Linked DNA regions of Homo sapiens: region 2 is linked to region 1. The links come from fine-mapping of genetic effects on plasma protein levels. A gene starts in region 1. The other region holds a variant in brackets. All regions are shown on one strand. Distances are from middle to middle.

Region 1 (10,704 bases):
GGGAGTAGGGCTCAGTGACTGGACTAGGAATGAGTGTATCCAGTGCGCATATGGATGTGCGTGCCTGTGTGCATTTGTGTGTGTGTGTGTGTGTGTGCGCACGTGCACGCAGGCAACGGGCAAGCTTCAAGGTGGTTGAATGGGCAGCACCCGCAAGCCTCTGGGGCTTCTCTCTCCATGCAGAAGCTGAACACCCTGGGCTGTCATAGGCTGGCTCAGAGGAAGGTTTGAGCCAGCAGGGCCCTCTCTTGGTCTTGTTTTTGGAGGACGGGCTGACGACAGGACTGGCCCGGGTCAGGGAATGGGTGGCTGGGATTGGAAGTGAACCAGTGCCTTGTCCTGGCGGAGCCACTGGAGCCCACTCTGCTCCTGTGAGCCTGCCACTCGGAGAAGTTAGAGGGCAGCAACTGCTTCGGCCCGCGTCCTTCCCCCAAGGCCAACAGCTGCAGAATTTCTGCCCCAGCCGCCCCCACCCCCGGAGGTGTCTGCACAGTGTCCAGGTGTCGGGCCCAGGAAGCCCTTGGTGGATGCTGGTGAAGAAGGGACAGGTACAGGGTATGGGAGTGTGTCCGGAGGTCCTGGGGTGGTGGCTGTGCATGGGTCCGTCGTCCTGGGGGAGGAGGCACTGTGCCCTCTGATGGCCAGGTGGACAGAGTCACGACTGCTTTGGTGGGTGTCCCCGGGGCTCACCCTAGGTCAGTTGCCTGCTCAGTCTCAGCATCCAGCCACCGCCTCTGGGCTCAGTCAGCTGACTGGCCACTGTTGTGTCCCCTCAGGGCCCAGGGACACAGATCCCCACATCTGAGGCCTTGCTGAGTGGAGTTCTACTGTGCCTGGTGTCCGGAATTCTGGGACAGCAGGACCATCGCCCACCTCATGGATAGGGAAACAGACTAGGGCAGGGAATTCCCAGTATGGCCGCCAGGGGCTCAACGAGGCAGGCCAAAGGGGCTGATTCGTCCCAGGCCCAGGCCGCCGCTCCCCGCATGACTTCCCCTCTGGACACCTGCGAGTTGGGGGCACCCTTGGGGAGGTGGAGGGTCTTGCTCCTGAGGGCGGGGAGGGACGCCCTGCGGTCTGCACACCCCTCTCCTTTAGAGATTTCTTAAAGCTGCGGAAGACTAGCGCTGGCTGGTCTGACCTCTCCGCGGTAGTGGGGTTCAGAAGGGCCTCTGCTTCCCCTCCGCGCAGTAGGGCCTAGCGGCACGGGTGGGCGCCCTTCTCCCTCCCCTCCACCGCCACCTCTTGGCGGCTGGCTGCTTCCCCGCCAGCTTTACCCACGTCCTGCGACGGTCACGGATGCGACGCCCACTCACCTCCCTAGACCCCGCGCGCCCGGGTGGTGAGCGCCTGGCCTCCGCGAGCCCCACCCCGTGGGCGCGCCCTCCCGAGGTCCCTCCCTGGCCGTGGCCTCCCCACGCATTTCCTGGGAGGGTCGCGGCGACAGGCAGGGCAGGTGGGCGTCCTCCAGGCCGGCCGAGAGGGCCAGGGCTCTCTGAACTCTGTGCTGCGGACCCCTACGGTCCAGGCGGCCCAGCTGCGCGCGCAGTGCAGGTTCCGGGCAGAGCGCACAGGGTCGCCGCGTGCTCGCGGTGCGCGCTCTGGGACGAGTCTTCCTGGCGCGGGTTCCGGGACTCGGGCGCGCGCCCTCTGCTGGCCGTGCGGGCTCAGCATCGGGGGCCCCTCGCAGGTGCCCTCCCAGGGATAGGGGCACCTGCTGAGCCTTCACCACTGCGCTCCCAAAGAGCCTGGAGGCCTCATCCCCATTGTGCCGCTGGGGACGCTGCCAGAGATGCGGCGACTTCTTGCTCCGTCCCCCTGGTGAGGCCAAGGCCCTGCCCCCTTGGCTCCAATCGAGGCCCGGGTGAGGCCCTTGGAGGTCCGGCCATGACCCAGGGGACGGGCCCTAACCGGAAGCCACGCCGCCGGCCCGGTGCTGGCCAACGGGGAGGCCCGGGGTAGCCCTTCAAGGGGGCCTCTCTGGCAGCTTTCTCTGGTCGGGGCTGCTCCCCAGGGACAGCATTTAATTCCTGGTATTTCTGGGAGGGCGTAGAGGTAGGGGGTGGGTTCTGACATCTGGGCCCTTCATAGACAGAGGTGGGCTCTCACAGGGGTCCTAGGCGACCCCCGCCACTGCCCTGGTTACTCCCGCATGCTCCTCGGGTATGCCCAGCTGGTCTGACCACAGCCTGCTGCATACCGCTCCCACCCCAGCAGGCACAGGTGCCCACAAGACCCCACGGGCGTGACCCAGCTGATGTGTGGGGCCTTAGAACCCAAGACCTAGCTGGGCAGCGCTTAGATGGTGTGCAGCCCAGGAGACACCAGGGGACTGGGGCCTGGAGAGGGGCAGTGTCCAGGGGTGGCTCAGGCCCACAGCAGCCCGTGCTCCCCGTTGGCTCTGCCCACCTGCCGACAGGGGTGACAGTGGCACAGAGCACTGTGACTGTGATGGGACAGCCAGGGCCAGGAAGAGGGGGAAGCGAGCCTGGAAGTCAGGTCTCCTGGGTCCTGAGAACCCGGGGCTCCTCCGCTAATCTCAGCTGTCCCAAGGGGACAGTGGGCAGTTGTCAGAGGAGGTGACTGAAACCGTGGAGCTGTGTGGTACCAGCAGGCCCAGGTGCACACACCCAGGAAGACCCCTTGGGCTGGGCAGGCAGAGCCAGATGTATCCACCCTTGGAGGAAAGTGGATGCCAACTCTGAGCTTCCTTCCCTCTCTAGGGTGGGAGCGATGTCTCCAGGGTTTACAGGGGAGATTCTTAGCGGGAGATGTTCCCTGGGCTAGGGTACAGGTCCTGGTCTGAGATGCCAGGCTAGTTTGCATCAGGAAAGGGGCCCAGGAGGCATTTCTTCCCCTAAGTCTCTGTTTTCCTATCTGTGAAATGGGTCACAGAGGCTCTGGGTGAGAGGGAGGAGCAGGTGCCTAGAATGTGCTGTCCTTCAGCCTGGCTCTCCTGAAGGCCAGTTCTGTAGGGTGTCAGTGCCCAGGAAGGACAAAAGTCATGTCCACTCTTGGCTTAGTTATGTTTTATAAGCGTGGGGTATGGAAGGCAGAGGGCGCCCCTGGTGTGCTTCTCTCCCCTCAGACCCCATGAGTGAGCTGTGCCACAGCAGCAGGAAGCAGGGGGAGGTGATCACAGGTGGAGCCAGGCCCCGTCAGAGAGGAGGTGCCTGAGGAGCACCTTCCGCCCTGCCGCCCTGGGTTCAGAGTTCCGAGTTGCAGAGGTCTCGGAAGCAGCAGAAGATCAGGTGGGCGGCCCCGATGCTGTCGGGGTCGGTGGCCACACAGGAGCTGGAGCAGGAGCGGGTCACCACGGGGCTCTGGTTGAAGGGGTACTCTGCAGGGTGGGCCAGTGTCAGAACCCTCACTCCCCTGCAGCGCCTGCCTGCTGCTGCACTGCTCCCAGCCGCCGTCGCCTGACCTCACCCTCCCTGTGATCCCTGTTCCCAATAGTCCACATCTGTGAAGCCACCCAGGGCCCAGCCCTCCTCTGACTGTGACCTGTTCATGAATTATTAGGCCTTGTCAGACCTCTGAAGTGCCTGCGCTGAGATGGGAGCCCGAGCCCAGAGGCTGTGGCAACACCACCCAGTGGGTCTGTGTCAGAGCTGGGGTTTGAGCCCCCCAGGGTACCCCGGCCATTAAGCCCCACCCACCTCCAGCGCCTGGTGCCCCAGGACTGGGTCTCTGAGGGGGCTGTGCCACCCTCGTGGAAGGCACCCCTGCCAAGGTGTGGCAGCCTGTTCTGCCCATCCCACCTGCTGCCTTTTGGGCCGGGAGGAGCACCAGCAAAGGAGGGAGGCACTTGGGGGAGGTGGCCCTGACTCCAGTGCACCCAGGGCTGCCGTGGGGCCTGGCCTCACCTGCCTCCACCGTCACCAGCGTGGTCATGCAGGCTGTGTCCTCTGGCTTGCAGCGGGTAATGGTCCTGCAGGAAGCACTGGTCATGGGCTCCTTGCAGGTGTAGCACTTGAGGGCCTCACCTGGGTGAGGGATGGGGGCAGAACCTCATCACCTGACCTCGGTGGCCTCATCCTGGAACCAGGAGGCAGGGGCTGAAGGAGTCTCGCTGACATCTTTCAAGGCCCCGGGCAGCCCTTCAAGGGGCCTCTCTGGCAGCTTTCTCTAACTGAGCTGAGCCACAGACTTGAATGCTGCATCCCTCCACCAAGCCTCAGTCTCCCTTCCTGCAGAGTGGAGCCGTGACCCCTGTCCCAGGGTGAAGCTGGGCTCTGGGACCCAGGAGGCTCACTGAGAATGAGGAGGGTGAGCCTCATGGAGGCCTAAGGAGGCTCTCAGCCACAAAGCACCCCCAACAGCCCCATCCCCCTAGGAGGTGGGCAGACAAGCTCAGAGGCAGGGTCCCCACCAGCCTGCGGCCCACTCACCACAGCCCATGCTCCAGGCTGCCACGAGCAGCAGCTGCACAGCCCAGCGAGAGGCCATTGCTCCGTGCTCAGAAGTGATGAGAGGTAGCCAGCCTCACATCAAGGATTTATACCCAGGCCCTTGGGCACCGGCTTCTGGGCGGTGGCAGAACCGGCCGTGTGAGTCAGGAACGTGGTAAAGGGCCCAGTGGGGAGGCAGCTGGCAGGAACATGGCAGACGGGCAGGGAGCTGGATCTGGGAGCTCTGTCTGAGGACGATGGCCAGGCCTCTGCTTGCACACCTCCAACACTGGGGAACTCACTGTTCCTCAGCCATGTCCAGTGGTCCTGGGACAGCTCTGACAGAGAAGGCCTTTCCTGCTGAGCTCAGACTGCCCCTCTGATGAGCCCCCATGTCCTGGCTGTGCCTCTGGGGTTCACATAGGCCACCCAGCCCCAGCCTGGGGGACCCTTAAGACCCAGGTTCAGTGTAGCCTCTGCCCTTGTTGCTCTAGCCCCGCCTGGCACCCCTTCCCTGCAGCCTGGCCTGCAGCCCTCTCCACAGACCTCTACCTGGTCTGTGTACACCTGATACACACCTGCAAAGTAGAAACCAGAGGTAGGAAGCAGGTGTCAGGTGAGGGTAGCATGGGCCAGCTAGACCACTCTCAGGCTGACAAGGTTGGGCCCAGGAGTGGCCCCTCATCACTGCCAGCCCCTTCCCACTAATGGCCTTTAGACCAAACCTGAGTTTCTTGATTTTAGGCGCCTGACAATAAGGTTCTGCTCACCCTCCAGCCTCCTGGCCTGACTGTGTTGTCTGCTCTTTACTGCGTGCCCCCCACGACACCCTGTTCCACACGCATGCCTGCCTATGCCATACCGCTCAATGACCACATTGCCTGGTCTCCCATCTGATGTCCCACATCTTCCCCATGCTGTGAGACCCACTAAGGTGCCCCTCTCCACAGTCCTTCCAGGTATACCAGCCTCTCTGGTTTCTCTGTCCTGTGATGTCCCAATGGGTGGTTGTATAGATGGATGAGTTGATGGATGGATGGATGGGGGATGGATGAATGGGGGATGAATAGGCGATGGATAGGGGATGGATGGATAGATGGGTGGGGGATGGATGGGTAAATGAATGGGAGATGGATGGGTGGATGCATGAGTGGATGGGTGGATGGATGGGTAGATGGATTAGTGGGGGATGAATATGGGATGGATGGATGGATGGTAAGAGATGGATAGGAAATGGGTGAAGGATGTATGGGTGGATAAGTTGGGGATGAATGGAGGATGGGTGGGGGATGGATGCATAGATGGATGGATAGGTGGATGGATGGATGGATGGGTGGATGGATGGGTAGATGGATGAGTGGGGGATGAATATGGGATGGATGGGGGATGGATGGTTGGATGGATGGGGGATGGATGGGAAATGGGTGGAGGATGGATGGGTGGATGGGTGGGGGATGAATGGAGGATGGGTTGGGGATGGTTGGGTGGATGGATGGATGGGTGGATGGATGGGTAGCTGATGAGTGGGGGATGAATATGGGATGGATGGGTGGATGGTGGGAGATGGATGGGAAATGGGTGGAGGATGTATGGGTGGATGGGTCAGGGATGAATGAAGGATGGGTGGGGGATGGATGGATAGATGGATGGATGGGTGGATGGATGGGTGGATGGATGAGTGGGGGATGAATATGGAATGGATGAGGGATGGATGGGGAATGGGTGGAGGATGTATGGGTGGATGGGTGGGGGATGAGTGGAGGATGAGTGGGGGATGGATAGATGGCTGGATGGGTAGATGGATAGATGGATGGATGGGTGGATGGATGGGGGATGGATAGGAAATGGGTGGAGGATGTATGGGTGGATGGGTAGGGGATGAATAGAGGATGGGTGGGGGATGGATGGATAGATGGATGGATGGATAGATGGATGGATGGGTAGATGGATGAGTGGGGGATGAATATGGAATGGATGGGGGATGGATTGGATGGATGGATGGGGGATGAATGGGAAATGGGTGAAGGATATATGGGTGGATGGGTGGGGGATGAGTGGAGGATGGGTGGATGGATGGGTGGATGGATGAGTGGGGGATGAATATGGGATGGATAGATGGATGGATGGGTGGATAGATGGGGGATGGATGGGAAATGGGTGGAGGATGTATGGGTGGATGGGTGGGGGATGAGTGGAGGATGAGTGTGGGATGGATAGGTGGCTGGATGGGTAGATGGATAGATGGATGGATGGGTGGATGGATGGATGGGTGGATGGATGGGTAGATGGATAAGTGGAGGATGAATATGGGATGGATGGGGGATGGATGGGGAATGGGTGGAGGATGTATGGGTGGACGGGTGGGGGATGAGTGGAGGATGGGTGGGGGATGGATAGATGGATGGATGGGTGGATGGATGGATGGGTGGATGGATGGGTAGATGGATGAGTGAGGGATGAATATGGGATGGATGGGGGATGGATGGGGAATGGGTGGAGGATATATGGGTGGATGGGTGGGGGATGGATAGATGGATGGGTGGGGGATGGATAGATGGATGGGTGGGGGATGAATGGAGGATGGGTGGGGGATGGATAGATGGATGGATGGGTGGATGGATGGGTAGATGGATAAGTGGGGGATGGATGGGTGGATGGGTGGGGGATGGATGGGGAATGGGTGGAGGATGGATGGGTGGATGCGTGGGGGATGAGGGGAGGATGAGTGGATGGATGGGGACGGATGGGTGGATGGGCAGAGGATGGGTGGGTGGATGCATGGATGGATGTTGGATAGATGTGTGGATGGATGGATTTCAGAAGGATGGATGGATGGAGGATGGGTGGATAGGTGGGTGGAGGATGGATGGATGAATGGGGGCAAGATGGGTGGATGGATTATTAAATGAATGACATTTGAGAGAGTTGATGTGTGAAAAAATGAATGAATGGATGGGAGAATTCAGGGATGGAGGGATGGGTGGCTATAAAAGTGGCGGCAGACAAATGTGTAGTGAATGGGCCCTTCCGAGGCAGAATTCGATGCTGGAAGGAGCTCTGGGCTGGCACCAGGAGTCCTGGGTTCTGGTCTTGGCCTACTGCTCTCTCCATTTGTGGCCTTGGTGTGGCCCCTTTTTCCTTCCAGTCTTTGGTTTTCTGTTTGTAGTTGTGAAAGCTGAAGTGACCTGGCCTTGTGGGCTGAGGTGAGTTGTGTGAGGCTGTGGGATGGTTGCAAGAAAGCCAAGGGAGGGCGTAGTTACTGCAAATCAAACAAAGGGGCTGACATGGGTTGGTGCACAGATGGCAACCAAGAGCAGCCTCTCCCCAGGGCTTGGTCCACAGACACACCCAGGTGTTTCGAGAGGAGTCAGAGACTGTCCGGTTCTGGAGCCTGAGCTCCACCCGGCCTCCCGTGAAGCCCATGTCTACTCACAAGGACTCTCACCCCACGTTCTTTCATCTATAAACTGGTCAGGGGAACATCTGCCAGAGGGTGGTTGTGAAAACTAGCAAGTATCTGGCAAAGGATGGGCCTCCATCAAGCTTTCAACTCAGCTCTGTGCTGATCACAGTGCAGGTGTACTTGGGGCAGAGGTGGGCGGATGCTGAGGACAGGGGTACTGCTCTCAGCTGCTGCTCACATTGGCTTTGAAAGGGAGGGAAGTCCTCAGAGGGTGCTCTGGGTGGGAGTAGCAGCCAGCAGAGGGGCACAGGCAGCCTTTCCGCTGTGTGGGAAGAGTGGGCACTAACTTGGCCCATCCCTGAGCCCAGCACCCTATTGGCAGGTGGAAAAGCAGCACTGTGTCAGACACAACTCAAGCAGGGAGAATTTATGCCCTAGTTAGGTGACTGCCCTCCCCTCCTCCTGCCTCTCCATGAATCCACACCTTTTCCCGACATGTGGAACCAGGAGACCAGGTTTTTTGAAGGCAGCTCAATCCCCCAAACCCCAGAGTTCTCATCCATGATAGGCCTGCAGCACTGAGCCAGTTCACACCAAGCCCCAGCTATCTGCCATGTCAGCCCGGTCTCTTTCCCAGAGGCCTGGCCCTTTCTCCTTGGCTACACTCTCCACCCTCCACTCAGAGAGACCAGCTAAAATGCAAACTGGCTTATGGCACTGCTCTTCCCAGAAACGCTCCCTGGCTCTCCACTGCCTTCAGCATGCAGTCAAAAAGCCCCACCACCACTGTTGGTGTTTGATGCTTGCCCTGTCTGGGCTGGCCTGAGGGACTACTGGACTGTCATCTCCTCAAGTAGAACATGTTTCCATTCCTCTAAGAATCCTTCTCCCACAGCCTGGGTCTGACCATGCTGACTGTTGAGCAGCATTTGCTGGAGGATGGATGGATGGATGGATGGGTGGATAGATAGATGGGGGATGGATGGAGGATGGATGGATGGATGGATGGGGAGATGGAAGGGGGATAGATGGATGAATGGGTAGGTGCATGGGTGGATGGATGGGGGATGGATGGATGAATGGGTGGGTGCATGCATGGATGGATGGGTGAGTGGATGGATGGGTGGGTGGATGGATGGGGGACAGAAGAGGGATAGATGCAGGGGTGGGTGGATGGGTCGATGGATGGGGGATGAATGGATGAGTGAATGAATGGAGACTGGACAGAAGACGGATGGATGGGTGGATGGATGAGTGGATGGATGGATGGTGGATGGATGAGTGAATGGATGGATGGATAGATAAATGGATAGGGGATGGGTGGATGGATGGAGAGAGTGATGGATGGGTGGGTGGGCATATGGGTAGAAGGATGGATAGGTGAATAATGTATGGCTAAAAGGGGAGATGGATGGATGAGTGGGTGGGTGGAGGAGGGATGGATGGATGGATGGATGGATGGATGGATGAATGGATGGATGGATGAGTAGTTAAAGACAGGCTTAATGTTGTTTCTTCCAAGGTGACCCAGGATGGGTATTTGTGGGCATTCAGGTTGACTTCTCCCCAGGGTACAAATGCTCTTGCAGCCTCTCTGACAAAACTTAGCACAGGTTTGGACACCCCTGGGAATGGGAATCTTACTCCTTCTCAGGGCAGTACCTGCCCCACTGGGACAGACCTGTTTCAGGCCTTCTTCCATGGGAGCTCAGACTTGCCAGTCTGACACCCGCAGCCTTGGTTCTGACCCTGTATCCAGGCTGCAGAGCCAATTACATCTCACAGGCGAGTCTGATAGCTAGTCAAGTTCCTTGGAGGATTGAGGTTTTTTGCATAGACAGGCACTGAGTGAGCTCTCAGGTTTGGCTGCTGATTTAACAGTGGGCTAGGGTAGAGAGGGGGAGGCAAGGAGCTGGAGGTGGCTGTGATAGCTACCCAGGGACATTGGCTGGTGGCTTAGATGGCATGATGACAGTGGGCACAGGGCTGAGGCCGAGGAAGATGTCCTGGCAGTGGGGTGGGGGGATTGCTAATGCTGAGTTATGGGAGGTGGTGGCTGAGGTCCTGAGGGTGCTTTGTCCTCTTGAAGGTTAGTGCTGGGCTCCAGCCTTGTCCTGACTGTATTGTCTGCATTTGAGATCCAGACATCCCTGCCCTGGGGTGGGCTGGGCCCTGCTCCCTGAGGAAGTGTGGCAGGTGTTCATCCTGTTCTGGAAGGTCGCAGCAGATGGCCTTGGGGAAGTCAGGAGTAGAAGAGAAAAAGAGGACGGCTGGCAAGGTGGTCTCATCATTCCTCTGATTTCAGGGCCAGATGTAATGGGGCCAGGGCAGAGGGTGCTAGAGCTGGCAGTTCCTAGAGAGGAGCAGAGCCCACTCCATCAGCCCGCCAGGGGTGGGAGTGGCCTGCACCACCAGACACTGAGTTCAACTGCTCCCCTCGCCTGCCTGCTCCTGGCTCCTCTTCTAACCAAAATCTGGAACCACTGGCTCTTCCTCTTCCCATCAAGCCATGTCCTGCCCTGCCCATTTCTACAGGCTGTGAAACTGCCCAGGGCACTGCACTGGTGGGGCCCTGGGTCCCTGCCCTGGCACCTCACTATAAGCCTCTCCTACCCCACTGGCAAGCTGAGGAGTAAGCCTGGATGAAGGACTTGGGTCATAGGGAATCTCAGGGACAGGTACCCAAAAGGTGGCATCATGGATGGTGAGGTTAAGGTCAAAGATAGGGCTCTAAGGCTTGGATTGGGCCTCACTCATAGCCTGTGCTTGGGCCTGAGCTGAGCCCCTTTCCCTATCATTGACTGAAGCCTTTTCCTGATCACACAATCACACACTGAGCCTGGACCCTAGTTACAGATTGAATCCTGATCCTTGGCCCTTGACTGAGTCATACTCCGTGGCTGAGCCACA
Region 2 (10,704 bases), 90 kb before region 1:
GACGAATTCTGAACTTGAGAGAGATGATTTAGGATATCTGGCAGAAGAAATTTCTAAGCAGCAAAGCATTCAAGAGGTGACTTGGGTGCTGTTAAAGGCGTTCAGTTTTATAAGGGAAAGAGAGCATAAAAGTTTGGAAAATTTGCAACCTGACAATGTGATAGAAAAGAAAATGCCATTTTCTGAGGAGAAATTCAAGCCAGCTGCAGAAATTTGCATAAGTAACAAGGAGCTGAATGTTAATCCCCAAGACAATGGGGAAAATGTCTCCAGGGCATGTCAGAGGTCTTCACAGCAGCCCCTCCCATCACATGCCCAAAGGCCTAGGGGAAAAAGTGGTTTCATGGGCCAGGCCCAGGGTTGCCATACTGTGTGCAGCCTAGGGACTTGGTGCCCTGCATCCCAGCCACTCCAGCCATGGCTGAGAGGGGCCAACATAGAGCTCAGGTCATGGCTTCAGAGTGTGCAAGTCCCAAGCCTTGGCAGTTTCCACATGGTGTTGAGCCTGTGAGTCCACAGAAGTCAAGAATTGAAGTTTGGGAACCTCTGCCTACATTTCAGATGTATGGAAATGCCTGGATGCCCAGGCAGAAGTTTGCTGCAGGGGTGGGGCCCTCAGGAGACCCTCTGCTAGGGCAGTGTGGAAGGGAAATGTGGGGTCAGAGCCCCCATGCAGAGTCCCTACTGGGGCATCACCACTAGTGGACCTGTGAGAAGAGGGCCACCATCCTCCAGACCCCAGAATGGTAGATCCACTGACAGCTTGCACTGTGCACCTGGAAAAGCCACAGACACTCAACACCAGCCCATGAAGGCAGCTGGGAGGGAGGCTGTACCCTGCAAAGCCACAAGGGTGGAGCTGCCCAAGACCATGGGAACCCACCTCTTGCATCAGCATGACCTGGATGTGAGAAATGGAGTCAAAGGAGATCATTTTGGAGCTTTAAGATTTGACCACCCCGCTGGATTTCAAACTTGCATAGGGCCTGTTTCAGCCAATTTCTCCCATTTGAAATGGCTGTATTTACCCAATGCATGTACCCCCATTGTATCTAGGAAGTAACTAACTTGCTTTTGATTTTACAGGCTCGTAGGTGGGAGGAACTTTCCTTGTCTCAGAAGAGACTGGACTGTTGACTTTTGAGTTAATGTTGAAATGAATTAAGACTGCGGGAGACTGTTAGGAAGGCATGATTGGTTTTGAAATGTAAGGACATGAGATTTGGGAGGGGCCAAGGGCAGAATGATAGGGTTTGGCTGTGTCCCCACCCAAAACTCATCGTGAATTCCCACGTGTTGTGGGAGGGACCCAGTGGGAGGTAATTGTATCATGGGGGAAAGTCTTTCCCATGCTTTTCTCCTGAGAGTAAGTAAGTCTCACAAGACCTGATGGTTTTTTGAAGAGAAGTTCCCCTGCACATGTTATCTTTCTCTTTGCCTGCTGCTATCCATGTAAGACGTGACTTGCTCCTCGTTCCATTCCCCCATGATTGTGAGGCACTCCCAGCTACGTGGAACTGTAACTCCATTAAACCTCTTTATTTTGTAAACTGCTTCAGAGGATGCAAGCCCCAAGCCTTGGCAGCTTCCACATGCTGTTGACCCTGTGAGTGCACAGAAGTCCAGAATTGAAGTTTGGGAACCTCCACCTAGGTTTCAGAGGGTGTATGGAAACGACTGGATGTCCAGGAAGAAGTTTGCTGCAGGGGCAGGACCCTCATGGAGAACCTCTGCTAGCACAGTGTGGAACGAAAATGTGGGGTGGGAGCCCCCACACACAGTCCCCACTGGGGCACTGCCTAGTGGAGCTGTGAGAAGATGGCCACTGACCTCTAAACCCCAGAATGGTAGATCCACAAACAGCTTGCACCGTGTGCCTGGAAAAGACACAGACACTCAATACCAGTCTGTGAAAGCAGCCAGGAGGAAAGCTGTTCCCTGTAAAACCACAGGGGCGGAGCTGCCCAAGACCACAGGAAACCACCTCTTGCACCAGTGTGACCTGGATGTGAAACATGGAGTCAAAGGAGATCATTTTGGAGCTTTAAGATTTGACTGCACTGCTGGATTTCAGACTTGCATGGGGCCTGTGGCCCCTTTGTTTTGGCCAATTTCTCCCATTTGAAATGGCTGTATTTACCCAATGCATGTACCCCCATTGTATCTAGGAAGTAACTCACTTGCTTTTGATTTTACAGGCTCATAGGCAGAAGGGACTTGCTTTGTCTCAGATGAGACTTTGGACTGTGGAGTTTTGAGTTAATGCTGAAGTGAGTTAAGACTCTGGGAGACTGTTGGAAAGGCATGATTGGTTTCAAAATGTGAGGACATGAGATTTGGGAGGGGCCGGGGGTGGAATGATATGGTTTGGCTCTGTGTCCTACCAAAATCTCACCTTGAATTGTAACTCCCACAATTCCCACATGTCGTTGGAGGAACCCAGTGGGAGGTAATTGAATCATAAAGTCAGTCTTTCCTGTCTTGTTTTCATGATAGTGAATAAGTCTGCAGAGATCTGATGGTTTTAAAGATGGGAGTTTCTCTGCACAAACTCTCTTTGCCTGCTGCCATCCATGTAAGATGTGACTTGCTCCTCCTTGCCTTCCACCATCATCATGAGGGCTCCCCAGCGATGCCAAACTGTAAGTCCATGAAACCTCTTTCTTTTGTAAATTGCCCAGTTTCGGGCATGTCTTTATCAGGAGCGTGAAAATGGACTAATACAAACACATTTCTAAGTGTCTAAACTACAGTCTTCCTTAAAAAACAAGGGTAGTCTCTGTTGCAATAACTATTTTAGTTAAAAAAATCAGGTACACAATACAAAATTAAGTGGTTTAAGGACTGAAACAAACTTGTCTGTTTAAATTCTTGGGGTTCCATAAGGAAAAACAGAGGTTTCTCCCCCAAAGGGAGTCTAGCACCTTCTCCATTTTCTTTAAGGAGTTTCTTTAAGGAACTCCACACTATTTATAAATAATATAAACTATTTTAGGTCCCCCGTGCAGCAGAGGGTGCAAGAGAAAGGAGAGACAGCAGAAGTAAATGAAGAAACTAGAATTGAGTCAACTGAGAAGAAAAAAACCTTTGTTCAAAAAAAAGACAAGGTTCTAAGAGAGGAAAAAAACAAAAACAAAAACATGAAGGTCCTTTAAAAACAAACACATACACACATTTTGGATGTTAACTTTAATTTATCTGACTTTCAACCATTGAGCTCCTTTAAAAAAAAAGTTTTAAAATCTCATTACCATATTGCAGCTAGGACAAATTGCTGCTATTTCAGAAGTACCAAGTATCAAACCAGAAAGGACTTGATTTAGGAACCAAACCCAGCTGTCATGCTGGAAAAAAAAAAAAAAGGAAGGCAGAACCCTAGGCATTGAACTGCACTGTGGGGTAACAGCCATTGCTTTCAGTTTGGCCTGGCTAGCAAAAAGTGGTCTTGTTATGTAAATAAAGCCCCTTAAGTAATGAAAATCAAAAATCAATCTTTTTTTTTTTTTTTTTTTGGTGGGAATTTAGCCACTTCAGAGGCCTTGTTCCCCATAATTTGAAACTTTCCTTCAGATTTGATCAAGTCAGATAGAATTGGTCAAACCCAATGGGAAAAAGACTGAAACAACAAAAACAGAAACAAACAACAAAACAACAAAGAGCAAAGCAAAACAAACAATTGCACAACTTATATCATTACTGAGTGCTCTAACAGTAAGCAGAAATTAAGACCAGCTGGCTGTTAATTTTAACTTTAGCCAAGACAAACCTCAATTCAGTTACTTACCTAGGGATGGATCTCAGGCTGAAGACTGCTCTCCACCATCCTAGAAGCAGGAAAAAAAACCTCATCTTCCCTGTTGGAAGTGAGCTCAAACTCCATAAAGGAGTTACCTGCCTCCCATCATCATAGAAGCAGGAAAAAACTTGCCTGTCTTGTGTTGGAAACAAGTAAAACTCCAAAAAAAGGGGGGGTGGTGGGAGTTGTACAGCATAAACATTAAATCTCAACCAAATTTTGGGAGATCAGGGATTTTTTGGAGGGGGTGCTTCCAGGCCTCAGTAAATTGCCCTATTGGTTTGAGCCATAAAGATAACTCAAGCTGGTACTAAGCACTCATAGGAGATTTTTTCAAAGGTCAGAGGCACCTCCACTCAGAATCCCTTTGTGATTACCAAAATATGAACCCAGAAAATCTGAGACAAGTTTCAGTTAATTTAGAAAGTTTATTTTGCCAAGGTTGAGGACACACGCCCATGACACAGCCTCAGGAGGTCCTGACATGTGCCCAAGGTGGTCAGACCACAGTTTGGTTTTCTACATTTTAGGGAGATATGAGACATCAATCAACATATGTAAGATAAACATTGGCTCAGTCTGGAAAGGCGGGACAACTCAAAGTGGGGCAGGGGCTTCCAGGTCATAGGTAGATAAGAGACAAATGGTTGCATTCTTTTGAGTTTCTGATTAGCCTCTCCAAAGAAGGGAATCAGATATACATTTATCTCAATGAGCAGAGGGGTGACTTTGAATAGGAGACAGGGAGGGGCTCATTCCATAGGCCCCTCCCCACCGAACTTGAAAAATCCTCACCTCTGAATTTTAGGGGAGGCTGATTTAAGTAATAACTGCTCTAAGCAGTTCTCAGCTTGACTTTTCCCTTTAGCTTAGTGATTTGGGAGCCCCAGTGTATTTTCCTTTCACATAATCAATTTACAGAACAAGAAAAAAGAGAAAGAGAGGTGACCTATAGCTGGAGAAGTGGAAGCTGCAGCTGCATGCTGCACGGTTATGCCACACAGCCACATTTCCTTCTAGGCTCAACGTCATTTCTAGGGTTCCAAAAATTGATGATGTTCATTCATTTTTTACACCCCTCTGTGAAGGCCCCAGTACTGGCCCAGACTGGCCAGGTACCCCACGGTGCAGAGGGATATGCAGCGGCTCCCCACAGGCCTGGCTTGGGCCACATCCATCAGCAGGCAGACCATGGTGAAGAGACCTCTGCAAAAATTTTAAGTGCAAGAGATCTGACCTAACTGACTCCATCTTGCCTTTAACCTCCAAACTGCCCTTGATCACTTCTGGGAGTGGGCCAAGCTAACTTTGGGAGAAATTTAGTTTGTAATTTAAATGATAACAGCCCTTCCCACGACTAAGCCACCCTCGTAATACTAATGAAAGGCCACCAAGTTAAGAGGATGAGAGGGGCCTGGATTCTGCTAAGATGTAGGGATAAACAATTACTCTTGTCCCAGAGGTTACAAGATTTTCAACTTCCCCAATTACTCCTGCAGATAACATCACTATTGTAGAACCTAGGATTGGACTTTTAAGATGTATTTTCAGACAGGGTCTCATTCTGTCACCCAGGCTGGAGTGCAGTGGCAGAATCATGGCACAGTG[T/C]GGCCTTGACCTCCTGGGCTCAAGCAGTCTTCCTGCCTCAGCCTCCCAAGTACCTGAGACCACAGGGACGTGCCACCACTCCTGGCTATTTTTTTTTTAATGTTTTGTAGAGAAGAGGTCTCACTATGTTGCCCAGACTGGTCTCGAGCTCCTGGGCTCAAGCATTCCTCCTGCCTCAGCCTCCCAAAGTGCTAGGATTACAAGTGTGGGCCACTGTGCCTGGCCACACTTTTGCATTCCTGACACCAGATGGCTCTACCGGGACCAGCAGACCAGCAGCTCCTTGGTAGCTCTCACCCAAAAGTGGACTCAGTGCACAAGGACCTTTTCTACACCCCTATGATTGCATCCCTAGCCAATCAGCAGCATCCATTCCCTAGGCCCTGCCCACCAAACTGTCCTTGAAAAATTCTCACCTCTGAATTTTAGGGGAGGCTGATTTAAGTAATAAGAAAACTCCACTCTCCCATTTAGCTGGCTCTATGTATATTCAACTCTTTCTCTACTGCAATTCCCCTGTCTTGGTAAACTGGCTCTATCTTGGCAGTGGGCAAGAAGTACTCATTGGGCAGTTACAGTAGGGCTGACTGGCACATGAGAGTGGTGGGACTGAGAGGCCTGGGAGCCTCCACCCTGCAGGGTCTGCTGATTGGTATCAAACCAAATAAACCACAAGGTCGGGGGAAGCTGCAGGGGAGGAGCAGCAGGAAGGACACTGTTCTGTGGCCCAGCCCAGAGCACCCCCACATGGTGTCCATGGCCATTCTAGTGTACCCTGACCTCTCACACTACTCCAACCCTCACAGCACACCTGCTGCCCTCCTGGGGTGCTGGCCTCCCTTCAGGGAAGGGGAGATTCTGGGCTTACAAAGACCAGGACAATGGCCAGAGGAAAGATGTGACAGGCCCTGGCTCCCTCCCTGCTGATGTCTTCCCTCTGCAGCCAGACTCCAGCCACTCCTTGCTAAGGGTCCAGCCTGATTCTGCTGAGCAAGGAATGTTTGTGAGGCTCCCAGGCTGGAGGCCAATGTGGTCCCTGTGTCTTGGTGGGATCCTGTCACCCTACCCCCAGGGCTACCCCAGAACAGGCAATTCAAAGAAGAGGGCTGTACCCAGGGCTCAGGAGCACAGACTCCCACCAGCCCTCCTCAGCTGGCAGAGCCCACCTGACCTCCCTGGCTGGCTCAGCTCTCACTGGGCATCTGGAGTCCTCCCCACCCCAGAGTCAGGCACAGCCAGTGCAGGTGCCACCTGCTTAATGCTGTCCTGCCCAGGCGCCCTGCCCAAGCCCCCAGCCACTCCCCAGCTCAAGGGTCAAGGGGCACAGCCTCCTGGGTGCTGATTTGCTGCAGCCAAGAGCCTTGAGCTGCCCCAGGCCCTCCTCAGTGAAGATGAGGCCAAGAGCAAGCAGAAGACCTAGGCCTCCCAACTAAGTGCCTCTCTCAGCAGAGAGCTGCACTTCTGGAGGTCAGCTGCGGAAGCTCCTTGCCCTGCCAGCCTCGGGGTCCCTTCTGAGGCTCTGCCTGCCCCAAGGTGGCTTTGAGGAGGCCTCCCCTGCTCAGCCTCCTATGGCGGCTTCAAGGGCTTCTTGAGCCACAGCTGGAACCATGGGGGCTGCCCTCAGGTGACCACCCCCAGGCTGGATCCCTCTCTGCCTTTGCATGCCCCCTTGAGATGGGTCCTAGTAGTGCCAGTTCTCCTTCCCCAGCAAGGGCTGCTCCAGGTTACTGCCCACACAGAGACCCTGGGGACCAGCACTGACTTCAGAGGTGGCACCATTCAATGTCCTCTAGTGGTGACCTTGCTGTGACCGCTGGCCTGGGGCCCCTGAAGAGCTGACACCCCACAGACACCATGTGTTAGGCACTGTGTGAAGGTTGGGCCCTGCAGAGTGGCCCCACACGAATCAGACATTCTTGAGAGTGAAAGGGGTGTTATTAGCAATTGTTCCAGGACAACAGGTGCCACCAGGACTGCCCAGGGAAAGCAGGACACAGCAGCACCCTAGGCACATCCACCTCAGCACAGCAGGAGGCTGGCAGACACAGCCAAGGCAGATGTCTCCAGAGGCCAAGAAAAGCGGGGAATCACAGGCAACAGGCAGGGGAAGGGATGCAGTGAGATCCCAGGCTGTGGAGTAAAACGGCTCCGGACTCCAAACTGTGTCCCTGACCATCCCTGCTGCTCCTGAGCCTCAACTGCTCATCTGTACAATGGGGATGGCACTAGTGACCAGCCAGGTGTCAGGAAGATTAGATAAGTGCCACAGAATGTGGACAGCACAGGTCCCACTAAGCGCGTTCTGCCTCCTGTCTTCTTGGGTCCTCTCTTCCTCCTTTGCTGCTTTTACACTGGGTATTTTCCAATGTAGCGTTTTAATTTAATGATTTTTTCACTCTATTTTCTAAATTATTTCTTTAGTGGTTGTTCTAGGGATCACCATTTACATTTTATCAGAATCTACTGTGGATCTGCGCTAATTCTACCTTCTTAATCTCCATTTGAGGCAATATTGGCTCACCCCTTCCTTTAGTTTTACCACCTTTAGTTCTTCAATCATGTCCTTTAGTTCTCAGACCATATTTATGATGGCCACTTTGAAACCTTTTTCTTTTAAATCCAGCATCTTACTCTACATAGGTAGTTTCTATTACCTGCCTTTTTCCCCAGTGTATAGGCCATACTTTCCTGTTTCTTTGCATGCCTCATAATTATCTGTTGAAGAGTGGACATCTTAGGTAACCTATTGTAGCAATTCTGGATACTAGCCAACCCAATCTCAGACTATTTTCCTACTTTCTTTGCTTAGTGACCAGCTAGACTATTTTAGTGGCATCCATTTCCCACCCCACATCCCAGAGCCTCTGACTGCATCTCAGTTTTTCTCCTCAGGAGCACAGCCTAGGTTATGCCCTCAGTCACCCTGGATGACAGTGGTTTGAAAGTGTTGCAAAGCTCTTTGTTGTTTTCCCTGACCACATCCAGCTGTTAAGCTCCACTAATGATCAGCTGATTGTTCTGTTTAAACTGCTTCACAGGTTAATCCAATCAAATTTGGGCTCCTTTGAAGGGATAGTTCCTGAAGTTAGTGTTTGTGATACTTTTACCAGCCAGACTATATTTTTGGCATATATCTCCAATAAATCTACTGATTTACCACAGTTGCCTTTCTCCATCACTTCCACTGTTTTTGAGAGCACCCTTAGGCTTGAACTTCACATCCTTACAAATGAAGTCAGTTCCTGTGGGGAGGAATGTGGAGCTCTCTGTTCTATGGCCTGCTTCTCCAGTGGCTCTGCCGTTTGGGGTGGGGACAACGCTGTATCTCCCCAACTTTGGGAGCTGAGCGTTTGGTGGGAGGGGAATCAGCAATACCAGGTGTTCTGGGCTTGCCTCTCAGTGTAGACTCCCCACTCTACAGGTGAAGCCCACTAAGAGTTGTTGCCTGCCTCCATCCCTCACACCCACAGCTCACCTCATAAATCTATCTTGTGCCCAGCACTGCCATGAGGCAGAAGTTCTCCAACATTATGTCTCTGTGGAAGCCTCTGGGGAGGGCTTAGGAATTGCCAACTCCTCTAGTGAAGTCACTGCCACATCCGCGCAGCACACAGAACTTCACGGACCTGAAGCAGGCTGGAAACTCTGCTCTCTCCTTACAGAAACTGGAGGAGCTCAGACATAATTGCTGGAGAGGGCATGAAGGCACAAGGCCTGGGCTGACTTGCACTGCTAGATGAGTCCTATACTCACTCACCCATCCTCTACAATCATGCTACCCAGACCCCTTGTAACTAGTTGTACTCATATGACTGGGACCTGGCTCGAGGGACAGGAGCAGAAGTGGTGTGCTTTCTGGAGGCAGACACAGTGGTGGGGAGGCAGACACAGTGGTGGGGATTAGAGCAGGTGTCCTGTAACATCTTCAACCCTGTGGCTCCCTTCATGAAATACACATGGCATGTCTTGGTCTGTTTGCATGGTTATAAAGTAACACCTGAGGCTGAGTAATTTATAAAGAAAAGAGGTTTATTTGGCTCACAGTTCTGCAGGCTGTACAAGCAGCATGGTGCCAGCATTTGCTTCTGGTGGGGGCTTCAGGGAGCTTCCACTCATGACGGAAGGCAAAGGGCAGCAGCATCACATAGCAAGAGCAGGAGGAAGAAGGGAGGGAGGTGCCACCAGGCTCTTTTTAACAAACAGTTCTCACAGAAACTAATCAAGTGAGAACTCACTTGTTACCACAAAGATGGCACCAGGCTATTCATGAAGGATCCATCCCGATAACAGGAACATTTCCCACCAGGCCCCACCTTCAACACTGGGGATCAAATTTCCATATAAGATTAGAAAGGGACAAACATCCAAACTGTATCATGGCAGAAGGAGCCTGGCTCTGCCAGACAGTTGAGCTGTTTCATTAGCCCTGATTTCCCTTCTCAACTAGTATGTGTGCAAGCACTGAACTGCTATCTTGCGTACACAACTCCAGGGTCCCTCTGTTATTGGCGCTGGGTAGGGTATGGTGGGAATCCTCCAGGCCCTGGCCATGAGGTGCTCCGTATTTATTGCCTCTGTCCGGGTCATGGTGGGCAGGTGGGTCTGCCTCCCCTTCTGGACCAGGTGAACCTTAACAATAGGTGCATGTTTTACTCATTCCAAGTCCCCCAGGGGCCTGGCCCATGACTGGCACTGAGGAGTTAGGGGCAATGGCAGAACTGCCTGGACCTGAAGCAGGCTGGAACCTCTGTTCTCTCCTTACTGCCTGTCTCAGTCAGTTTTGATTGCGATAACAAAATACCACAGGCTAGGTGTCTTAAACAACATAAATTAATTTTTCACAGATCTGGGGACTGAAAGTCCAATATCAAAGGCACTGGCAGTCTGGTGTCGGCTGAAGGCTTTCTCATTTGCAGATGGCAATTTTCTATTTTATTTCCTTTTTTTTTTTTTTTAGCAATAAGGTCTTATCATGCCTAGGCTGGTCTCGAACTCCTGGACTCATGCAATCCTAATGCCTTGGCCTTCCAGTGCTGGGATTACAGGCGTGAGCCACTGCACCCAGCTTGAAGATGGCAGTTTTCTTGTATGCTCACACAGCACAAAGTGACCTCGCTCTAGTTCCTTCCTTTTCTTATAAGGACTCGATCTCATCGGCGAGCCCCACCCTCACGATCTCACCTAAGCCTAGTCACCTCCCAAAGGCCCCACCTCCTAATACCACCCTCCTGGGGGTCAGGGTTTCAACATATAAACTTTGGGGGGGGACACAAACATGCAGTCCTTAACACCATCGTCAT

Direction of the effects. Positions count from the first base shown, and alleles are read on the strand shown. Strength reflects both the effect of a copy and how common the allele is.
In carriers of allele T in region 2, the plasma level of the protein whose gene starts at base 4,470 in region 1 tends to be higher than with C alone (moderate association).

What was found. PIP is the chance, under the fine-mapping model, that this variant and not a neighbour inherited with it causes the effect. Protein levels are from antibody-based Olink assays in UK Biobank. Linkage for the fine-mapping came from a reference panel and not from the study's own genotypes, which makes the PIPs less certain.
Region 2: its variant is fine-mapped to the plasma level of the SLURP1 protein (UK Biobank, PIP above 0.99).

The regions. Positions count from the first base shown.
Region 1 is chr8:142,737,937-142,748,640 of GRCh38, forward strand. SLURP1 (secreted LY6/PLAUR domain containing 1) reads right to left here and starts at 4,470. Exons shown (of 3, transcript NM_020427.3): 1 at 4,392-4,470; 2 at 3,867-3,986; 3 at 3,013-3,340. The coding sequence starts at 4,449. The coding sequence ends at 3,207. RefSeq lists an enhancer at 453-1,019 and silencers at 1,268-1,547, 1,588-1,667.
Region 2 is chr8:142,648,048-142,658,751 of GRCh38, forward strand. JRK (Jrk helix-turn-helix protein) reads right to left here. Exons shown (of 2, transcript NM_003724.4): 2 at 9,413-10,704. Among named protein-coding and RNA genes, the nearest start is that of JRK, 17 kb to the right of the region's middle. The variant T/C (reference allele first, on the strand shown) is at 5,405.